2 separate regions of the Homo sapiens genome follow, and region 1 is linked to region 2. Evidence: fine-mapped expression QTL. A gene starts in region 2. The other region holds a variant in brackets. All regions are shown on one strand. Distances are between the middles of the regions.

The links. PIP is the estimated chance that this variant, and not a neighbour inherited with it, causes the effect.
Region 1: its variant is fine-mapped to the expression of ICAM2 in whole blood (TOPMed, PIP above 0.99).

Annotation. Positions count from the first base shown.
Region 1 is chr17:64,083,224-64,088,451 of GRCh38, forward strand. All of the region lies in intron 2 of ERN1 (endoplasmic reticulum to nucleus signaling 1), which reads right to left. Among named protein-coding and RNA genes, the nearest start is that of ERN1, 44 kb to the right of the region's middle. The variant A/C (reference allele first, on the strand shown) is at 2,759.
Region 2 is chr17:64,017,983-64,022,982 of GRCh38, forward strand. ICAM2 (intercellular adhesion molecule 2) reads right to left here and starts at 2,651. Exons shown (of 5, transcript NM_001099789.2): 1 at 2,541-2,651. RefSeq lists enhancers at 2,271-2,390, 2,485-2,985, 2,731-2,820, 3,041-3,090.

The sequences.
Region 1 (5,228 bases), 65 kb after region 2:
TCTGTACATATGGTTAAATTTTTTCATATTAAAAAAGGTTAAAGAGAAAATTATCTTTGGAAAGTCAGCAAAAATAAAAAGAGCATTATCTGAAAATGTGCACTAAAAGAGTAACATGAAAAAGTGGTTTTGATTTAATAATGAGAACTGATATCAGGTAAGATTCTTGCTTTAAAAAAAAAAGTTTTCAGCCATGTGAAAAGAAACACTGTCCTACCTGTAGGGATGTAAACAAATACTGCTGTAAAATAAGCCACTATCTATATGGGGCCCGATAAGAATAAAAGCCAATGTCACCAAGTTGTTTTACTTTCAGAAAAAAAAAGTTGTGGGGGAGTTACTTCACAAATATAAAAAGTGGCTGTTATGTAAGGTAAAGGTAAGGTTATCTGGTAAAGGTAGAGGGAAAATATAGCTGAAATCAAGGTTTGGTCTCCCAGGATTAACACGGGAAAGAAACAAACCTGCTCACTGATCCCCTGGGAGCAGCCACTGGCCTCAACTCCACTCCCCGGCCCCCATCGTGTGTCCAGCTGAGGCCTGGAATGGCACAAGTTTTACACCTGCAGGAACTGACATCCTGGGTGAGGTCACAAGATGCTCATTGCTAGGCTAATCTAAATCACTTCTTTAAGCTCAAATAACAAAACAGACGTCCACATCTTTCCTTTGTCCAAGTTCATAAGGGTAAAGTTTTAAACATTTCTGTCCCCAAAAGCAGTGAATTTTTGTCCCCACTCCCTCCTCCACACAGGGAGGAACATTGCCAGCTTCTCCCTTCAGCCTTTCTTCTCACTCAGAGAGCACATGCCTCTCTATAACTTCCACCCTAACCACAGTGGGGTTCTAGGCTCCCCTCTCCCGGGTCCTTTCTCTGGATCAACTGGACACGCCCACTACTTCCCACCAACGCCTCAGCCTCTGCTTGCCCAAGTCACGCCCTCTGTCTTTTGCCTGAGACTGGCTTCTACTCCTGACTACCGTATTTTATTAACAGTACCACCATTCTCCTAGAAGAAAGCCATGACTCAAACGACACTGTTGATGTCTATTTCTCCCTAACACATGCTATCAGTTGCCAAACTCTGTGGTCTGTTTCGATGCCAACCATAATTCTGTGTCCTGTTCCCATTCCCTTCAACACCATAGGAACCCTTTGTCTCTCAAGCCTTCCCTCCTCTCTTAATCTGTGTGGACTTTGGAATCAGACAAACCAAGGCATAAATCCTGGCTCTGCCAATCACCAGCTGAGTGACCTTGGCAAAGTTACTTAAGCTCGTGGAGCCTCAATTTCCTCATCAGTAAGGAAAAAAAAAATAGAGATAACATCAACCTCATGGGGCATCTCTATGTGGATTAAATGTTTGTCAAGACTATAAGTCAATGCCTTGACACTGAGAAGAGTGATCCTTTTAAAGGCATAAATCAGATTAAGCTTCTCTGTGACTCAAAATCCTTTGGTGGTTCCCCATCTCACTCAGTGAAGGCCAGTGTTTACACAGTGGTTCATAAATCCCAAGCAGTCCCTCCCTTTCAACCTGTCACCCTTTAACAATCTCCCACTATTTCCCACACACTCCATTCCAGCCATGCCGGCCTCCAAGTATTCAACAAGCACTGCCAGGCCTGCCCATGCCTCAGGACCTTTGCACTGGCTGTTCCTCTGCCTAGGTCTTTGATCAACTGTTGCCACCTCAGAGCGGTCTTCCATGATCACCTCCTACTGCCCAGGATTTCCAACCCTTCTTCCCTGCTTAATTTTTCTCCATGTCACTTACCACCTCTGTAGTTCTGTATATTTTATTGCTTACTTAATGCCCAACTCTGGCCACGGAGGGTTGGGATTTATTTTTTGTTGTCTGCATCTTCCCAAGGATCTAAAACAATACCTGACACACAGGTGGTAACCAACGTATTTGCTGAATGGAGTAATTAAGTGTCATTTCCTGTCTTAGTCTGTTTGTGTTCCTATAAAGGAATACCTGAGGCTGGGTAATTTATAAAGAAAAGAGGTTTATTTGGCTCACGTTTCTGCAGGCTGTACAAGAAGCATGGCATTAGCATTTGCCTCTGATGAGGGCTTCTGGCTGCTTCCACTAGTGGCAGAAGGCAAAGGGGAACCGGAGTGTACAGAGCTCACAGGGCGAGAGAAGCAGCGAGAGGGGAGAAGGTGCCAGGCTCTTTTTAAGAACCATCTCTCACAGGAATTAATAGGGTGAGGATTCACTCACTACAATGAGGACAGCGCCAAGCCATTCATGAGGGATCCACCCCCAAGACCCAAACACTTCCCATTAGGCTCCACCTCCATCACTGGGAATCAAATTTCAACATGAGGTTTGGAGGGTCAAATATTCAAACTAGCGCAGTTTCTTTCCTACTTCCACTCTTGGCCAGCCTGGAAATCCATTGTTGATCACTTTTAATAATCCAGCAGATAAGCTCTACTCACCCTGAACCCAGGATCTGCATAGCAGTCCCTGTTCCTCCACCCAGCCTTCTGAGCACAGCTGTAGAAAACACTGCGATCATTAGTGGAGATACCATGATACGTGGTATCTCCATGGTGTGGCCAGCTAGGCCCCTGCCACTAGGAGATCCTGGCTGGCTTCTGTTCTCACCCCTGTAGCTGATATTTCAAACTACTCCTTGCCTCAAGGTCCCTGTCTCTCCACAAATGACTCTGCCTTCTGTGTCATAGGGGATATTAAGGGAGACTGAGTGAGCTTGCTGAAACTTCCTACCCTTTGTCTTCTAC[A/C]TTTGCCCAGCTCCACCCTTCCCTTCACATCTCTATAAAGGGACAATGCTTTTGTCTTCACACTCATAGATTTTTCACACTCACATCTAGATCCTGTCTCCAAGGATCTTCAACTCCTCCTTTGCCTATAAACACAAAAACCTCTTGGCTCTGCCTGCTCTTCTGCACACTCTCCTTTTCCTCCAAAGTGCAACCATTTTAAGTTTACAGTTCAATCAATCTTGAAAAACACACACCCATGTAACTATCTTCACCATCAAGATACAGAACATTTCCATCACCCTAAAACATTTTTTCACATCCCTTTGGATTCAGTATTTCCAAATCTTGCTCCAGATAAGTACCAGTTCATTTTGTTTGTTCTAAAATTTCACAAATGACCACGTCATAGATACTCATTTGTGCCTGGCCTCTTTATCTCACATAATGTCTTGGAAATTCATCCATATTGTTGTATGTATCATAGTTCGCTCTTTTTTATTACCAAATAGTATTCTACTATAAGAATTTACCACAATCTGTTTACCTATTTACCTGCTGAGGGACATTTGAGTTGTTTTTATTTTCTTGGCTGGTGTGAATAAAGCTTCTGTGAACATTTGTGTACGAGTGTTTATTTGGACCTATTTTCATTTCTTTTTTTTTCTTTTCTTTCCTTTTTTTTTTTTTTTTTTTTTTTTTTTGAGATGGAGTCTCGCTCTGTCGCCCAGGCTGGAGTGCAGTGGCACAATCTCAGCAACCTGCAACCTCCACCTCCTGAGTTCAAGTGACTCTCCTGCCTCAGCCTACCGAGTAGCTGGGACTACAGGCGTGTGCCACCACACCCAGCTAATTTTTGTATTTGTAGTAGAGATGGGGTTTCACCTATTGGTCAGGCTGGTCTTGAATTCCTGACCTCGTGATTCACCCGCCGTGGCCTCCCAAAGTGCTGGGATTATAGGTGTGTGCCCAGCCTATTTTCATTTCTTAAAACAAGGAGGGGGACTGGCTGCATCATATTGTTTACCTCTGACAAAAAATTGACAAACAGTTTGCAAAACTGGTAGTACTGTTTTATATTTCCACCAGCAATGTATTAGAGATTCCTATGGAATTTTTAGAATGTTGATTCCTAGGTTCTTCCCCCAGGAAGCTGGCTTTGTAGGTAGAGACAAGGAATTTGCCTTTATAACCCAAGCTGGGTGATTGAGCCATGTGGGGAAACTACACTGCTCCGAATCCTCTGTTCCACCTTCCTGCCTTCTTACCTTCCTCCACTCACTGCCCTCCGGCCCCTACCCTCAGAATAAGATCAGAACTGCCACTGTCAAGTTCCCGTGATCAAAACCAACACTTGCAAATCCTCCGCATGGCATCTGAGGATGTTCTCCCTTGGACTCCTGACCCAGTCCCACTTGCAACTGCTATGGGTGTCTCAGCCCAAGGCCATACCCCCAGGACCTGCTCCTCAGTTCACATTCCCCAGATTGGCTAGTGGGTCCCACTTCCACCCAGTCACACAACCTAGAAACTCAGGAAGTCCCCAAACCAGTCCCTTTTAAGTGTACCTCTAGCAGTGACTGTAAATGTTTTGGGTTGGCCCTTTTGAAAAGTATTTAAGGGAGAGGGACAGGGATTACCCCGCATTGATAATTATTGAAGCTGGGTGCTGGGTACATGGTTTCATGATACTACTCTTCTTACTTTGGGGTATGTATAAAGTTTTTATAAAATGAAAAGTTAAAAAAAAAGCTAAAAACAGAAGCTATTTAAGGCAAACATCTGCAATAGGTTGGAGAGAATGGCCTGTTCCTCCTGCTCTCACCTGTGGCATAATTCTGAAGAGCCTGCTCTTCCAGTTGCACAGGGCACAGAGAGACTGAAGGGAAACCCAAGTTAAGAGCATGAAGGACCCTGTCAGGACCATCCCAGGCTTCCCTAAATGCAGGGCTGGCAAAATTCGTGAGGGCCTGGGGAAAACATGGGGTGATAAGTCAGCTGAACAGAAAAATGTCTTTGATGCAATCAACCAAAATTTAAATAATTGTTTCAAACCAGACTTCGAGATTGACGGCCTCTCTCTGGAGGTAGCTCTGGGCAGACTTCCTTCCATGTAGGAAGAAGTAAGATCCCTTTGATTACAGAAGCCACAAGAACAGGTTGCTCACTTAACTGGAGCTCAAGGAGCCTTGCAAGATCCTTCTCTTATCTTTCCCAGATGAGCACGGATATTTCTGGAACACCCTGCTTTTGCTTTTCCGTTGGACTCTAGATGACCTCTGGCTTTACTGCCCTCCTCCACCTTGTTCTTTCTGACCCCATCTGACCACCCTTCTGACCCCCATAACGCAGCAATGGAAATCAGCTCTCTCTTCTGCACAACTAAGATATTACCACACAGTTAGAAAGTCCCCAAACCAGTCCCTTCTAAGTGTAACCCTAGCAGTGATTTTAAATGTTCTGGGTTGGTATTCAAAATACCTTTTGAAAG
Region 2 (5,000 bases):
CATATCCTTGGGGCAAGACCTCGAAATTGTCAATCATAAAATCAACAATTGGTATCTTTGACTAAGATACAAAGAAACAGGTCGGGTGCGGCTGTGACGCCAGCACTTTGGGAGGCCGAGGCGGGCTGATCACGCGGTCAGAAGATCGAGACCATCCTGGCCAACATGGTGAAACCCCATCGCTACTGAAAATACAAAAAAATTAGCCAGGCATGGTGGCGGGCACCTGTAGTCCCAGCTACTCGGGAGGCTGAGGCAGGAGAATGGCGTGAACCTAGGAGGCGGAGCTTGCAGTGAGCTGAGATCGCGACACTGCATTCCAGCCTGGGTGACAGAGTGAGACTCTATCTCAAAAAAAAAAAAAAAAAAAAAAAAGACACAAAGAAACATTTCAAAGAAAAGGAAACATGTCTAAACAAGTGAAAAGATTATTTAGCTCGAGTAGCCAGGGAAATTAAAATTAAAATTACAATGGGACCGATACTATTTTATATGTATTAGGTTGGCAAAAGTTAAGAAATATGACAAGACCAATTGTTGGAGAGGCCGTAGGTTAATAGGCACCCTTCTAACTGCTGATGAGAGTGTATATTGGTGCTCTCAGAGATAATTAGGCATTATCTTGTAAACGGAATATTCTTATACCCTGTAACTCACAGTTCCATTCTTAGATGTATGCCCTAGAAACGCTGTCACACTAAGAACCAGACATGTCTTTGTGTTTACTTCTCTTTTTTTTTTTTTTTTTTTTTTTTTTGAGACGGGGTCTCGTTGTGTCGCCCAGGCTGGAGTGCAGTGGCGCGATCTTGGCTTACTGCAACCTCCACCTCCCGGGTTCGAGCTATTCTCCTGCCTCAGTCTCCCGAATAGCTGAAACTACAGGCGTACGCCACCACACCCAGCTAATTTTTGTATTTTTAGTAGAGATGGGGTTTCATCTTGTTGGCCAGGACCGTCTCTATCTCTTGACCTCATGATCCTCCTGCCTTGGCCTCCCAAAGTGCTGGGATTACAGGCATGAGCCACTGCTCCCGGCCTTACTTCTCACTATCTGTGTGACCTTGAGCAAATCACTTAATCTTTCTGTGCCTCAATTTCCTCATCTGCAAAAAGGAATCAATAATAGTATCTTCCTCATAGGGTTTTTGTGCAGATTAAACAAATAAAATAAGTAAATATTTTAAAGCATTTAGAACAGTGCCTAGCACACAGTAACGCTATATAACTGTTTCATAAAATAAAAATAAATAGGCATAGCCAGGTGCAGCAGTTCAAGACTGTAGTCCCAACTAATCAGGAGGCTGAGGTGGGAAGATCACTGGATCCCAGGAGTTCGAGGTTGTAGTGTGCTATGATCATGCCTGTGAATAGCCACTGCACTCCAGCCTGGGAAATATAGTGTGACCCCATCTCAGTAAATAAATAAATAAATAAATAAATAGAGATGCATATGTAATAAAGCACTTAAAAATAAGAGAACAATAAACACAAAATTCCAGAGGGTGGCTACCTGTGGGTGGGAGGCAAGTAGCATAAAAGTGGACAAGTGGTGGCCAGGTGTGGTGGCTCACGCCTGTAATCCCAGCATTTTGGGAGGCCGAGGTGGGCGGATCATGAGGTCAAGAGATCGAGACTCTCCTGGCCAACATAGTGAAACCCTGTCGCTACCAAAAACACAAAAATTAGCTGGGCATGGTGGCATGCGCACCTGTAGTCCCAGCTACTTGGGAGGCTGAGACAAGAGAATCGCTTGAACCCAGCAGGCGAAGGTTGTGGTGAGCCAAGATTGTGCCACTGCACTCCAGCCTGGGCGACAAGAATGAAAACTCTGTCTCAAAAAAAAAAAAAAAAAAAAAAAGCAGATAAGTGGTGTTTGCAGTTTGGTGATACTCCATCCTTGTGCTGAGTGGCAGCTTCAGGTGTGTTTGGTATATTACTGTGCAGTATGATGTATATGTATGTTACATAAGCTTTTTATGCGTTACCTAGTAAATTTTACAAAAATAATAAAAGGGAAAAAGGGCCTTTCTACGTGCCTAGAAAGAAGAGGCTTCATGGGAATGTGAGCCATGGGTTAGGAAAGACCCCCTCGAACCGAGGCAGGTAGGAAGTGAGTGACTGAGATTCATTATGAACCCACCACGCCTGCCGGGGAGAACAGGGACTGTCCCTTCCCCTCTGCATCAGCTCAGATGGTCCAGATCACAGCCCACGTGGGCCCCTAAATAAGGAGGCAGCCCCACATTTCTACATCGGCCACCGAGATGGCAGAGCAGAGGAAGGAGAGAGGGGAGACAAATCAGGAAAGGAGCGCCAGGGCAAGTGCGTGAGCTCAGAGACCCAGCAGGGCAGGGCAGGAGCTTCACAGAGTGCAGAATGTCGAGCCACAGGAGCGCTGGGGATTCCCCAACCCCTGCACTTACCAGCGAGAAACTGAGACCCAGAGAGGGGAACGGACTAAAACTCAGACCTCGACACTGCCAAAATCCTTCCCATGCTGCCACGCTTCATTGGAGGGAAAGTGAGAAGCTCAACCTTACCCCTGTGGGCTCCAAGAAGGGTAGCTCTGGGATCCCGGGCAGGAAATTGGTGACAAGGTGACAAGGTGCGCGTGTCACAGCTGCCCAGTTCACGGCTTATTCAGTCTTCTCCCTCCCCCCACTCCCCACCAGAAGTGACGTGCTTCCTGTGCCCCGGTTCCCACCCTAAACTAGCCTCATTTAGCTCCACTCCCATTCCGCTTTTTTTTTTTTTAATTGTGGTAAAACGTACACAACAGAATTTACCATTTCAATTTTTTTTTTTTTTTTAGACTGAGTCTCAGTCACCCAGGCTGGAGTGCAGTGGTGTGATCTCGGCTCACTGCAACCTCTGCCTCCCGAGTTCACGTGATTCTTGTGCCTCAGCCCGCAGAGTAACCGGGACCACAGGCACCTGCCACCACGCCTGGCTAATTTTTGTATTTTTAGTAGAGACAGGGTTTCACCATGTTGGCCAGGCTGGTCTCGAACTCCTGACCTCAAGTGAACTGCCTTCCTCGGCCTCCTAAAGTGCTAGGATTACAGGCAAGAGCCACTGCGTCCAGCCAATTTTTTGTTGTGTTGTTTTTAAGACAGAGTCTTGCTTTTGTCACCTAGGCTGGAGTGCAGTGGCACAATCACAGTTCGTGGCAACCTCTGACCCCTGAGCTCAAGTGACCCTCCCTCCTCAACTTCCCAAGTGACTGGGACTACAAGTGTGCAGCCACCAGGCTTGGCTAATTTCTGTAGTTTTTGTAGAGACAGAGTGTTGCTTATGTTGCCCAGCCTGGTCTCAAACTCTTGAGCTCAAGCAATCCTCCCACCTCAGCCTCCCAAATGCTGGGAATGAGCCACCGTGCTAGGCCCATTTTAATTATGTTTAAGTGTACAGTTTGGGGCACTAAGTACATTCACATTGTTCTGCAACCATCACCACCATCCATCTCTGGAGCTCTCTCTTTCTCTTTTCTTTCTTTTTTTTTTTTTGAGATGGAGTTTCGCTCTGTTGCCCAGGCTGGAGTGCAGTGGTGTGATCTTGGCTCACTGTAACCTCTGCCTCCCAGGTTCAAACGATTCTCTTGCCTCAGTGTTTTTGTTGTTGTTGTTGTTGTTTGTTTGTTTGTTTGTTTTGTAGAGATGGAGCCTCACTCTGTCGCCCAGGCTGGAGTGCTGGAGTGCAGTGGTGTGATCTCGGCTCACTGCAACCTCCGCCTCCCGAGTTCAAGCAATTCTCCTGCCTCAGCCTCCTGAGTAGCTGGGACTACAGGTGCACGCCACCACGCCTGGTTAATTTCTTTTGTATTTTAGCAGAGATGGGGTTTCACCATGTTGCCTAGGCTGGTCTCAAACTCTTGAGCTCAGGCAATCCGCCCGCCTTGGCCTCCCAAAGTGTTGGGATTACAGGCATGAGCCACCGTGCCTGGCCTTGCCTCAGCCTCTTGAGTAGCTGGGATTACAGGCACGTGCCGACTGGCTAATTTTTGTATTTTTAGTAGAGATGGGGTTTCATCATGTCGGCCAGGCTGGTCTCGAACTCCTGACCTCAAATGATCCGCCCACCTCAGCCTCCCAAAGTGCTGGTATTACAGGCATGAACCACCACGCTTGGCCAGAACTGCCTTCCTTTTGAAGGCTGAGCAATATCCTATTGTGCGTGTGTGCCGCATTCTGTTCATGCATTCATATACTGATGGACACCTGTGTTGCTTCCACCTTTGGCTATTGTGAATAGTGCTGCTACAAACAGGGTTGTACAAATACCTGCTCAAGACTCTGCTTTCAGTTCTCTGGGGTATGTACCCAGAAGTGGAAATGCTGGATCATAATGGTAAAATATACACAACAAAATCTACCATCTTAACCTTTTTTCTTTTTTTTTTTTAGTGGTAATTCTGACTGGGCTTGGTGGCTCACACTTGTAAATCCGGCACTTTGGGAGGCTGAGGTGGGAGGATTGCTTGAGTCTAGGACTTCAAGACCAGCCTGGGTGACAAAGTGAGACCCCATCGCTACAAAAAAAAAAAAAAGTAATTTTGTTTAATTTTTGAAGATTTGCCATCCTGTTTTCCTTACTCCTCCCTTTGATGTGCAGTTTCTGTACTCACTGGGGCCTTCTGTGAATGAGGCAGTTCCAGGACAAGCTACCTTCTGGTCCCCCAAGTGAGGCAGGCGAAGATCACAGAGCTGAGGCTTCCTTGGCTGTGACACACCATTCCAAAAAAGCCTCTTATTAGTGACTAAGACCTATCACTTCATCAAATCTTATCAGACCTGCCACCTTGCCTAGCAATTTTACAACAATTACTCTAGAAGAGTGACTTTGTACAAACAAGCAGAAAGTATGAACACTGGGTGCAGAGGTGGGTGGCGGGCAGCCAGCTAGGCTCACCCACGAGCAGAGGATCTTGCTCCCACGGGCCAGCCTCACAGCACATTGAAACTTCTGGCTTAGCAAAGTCACAAATTAGACCATTCAGAGGC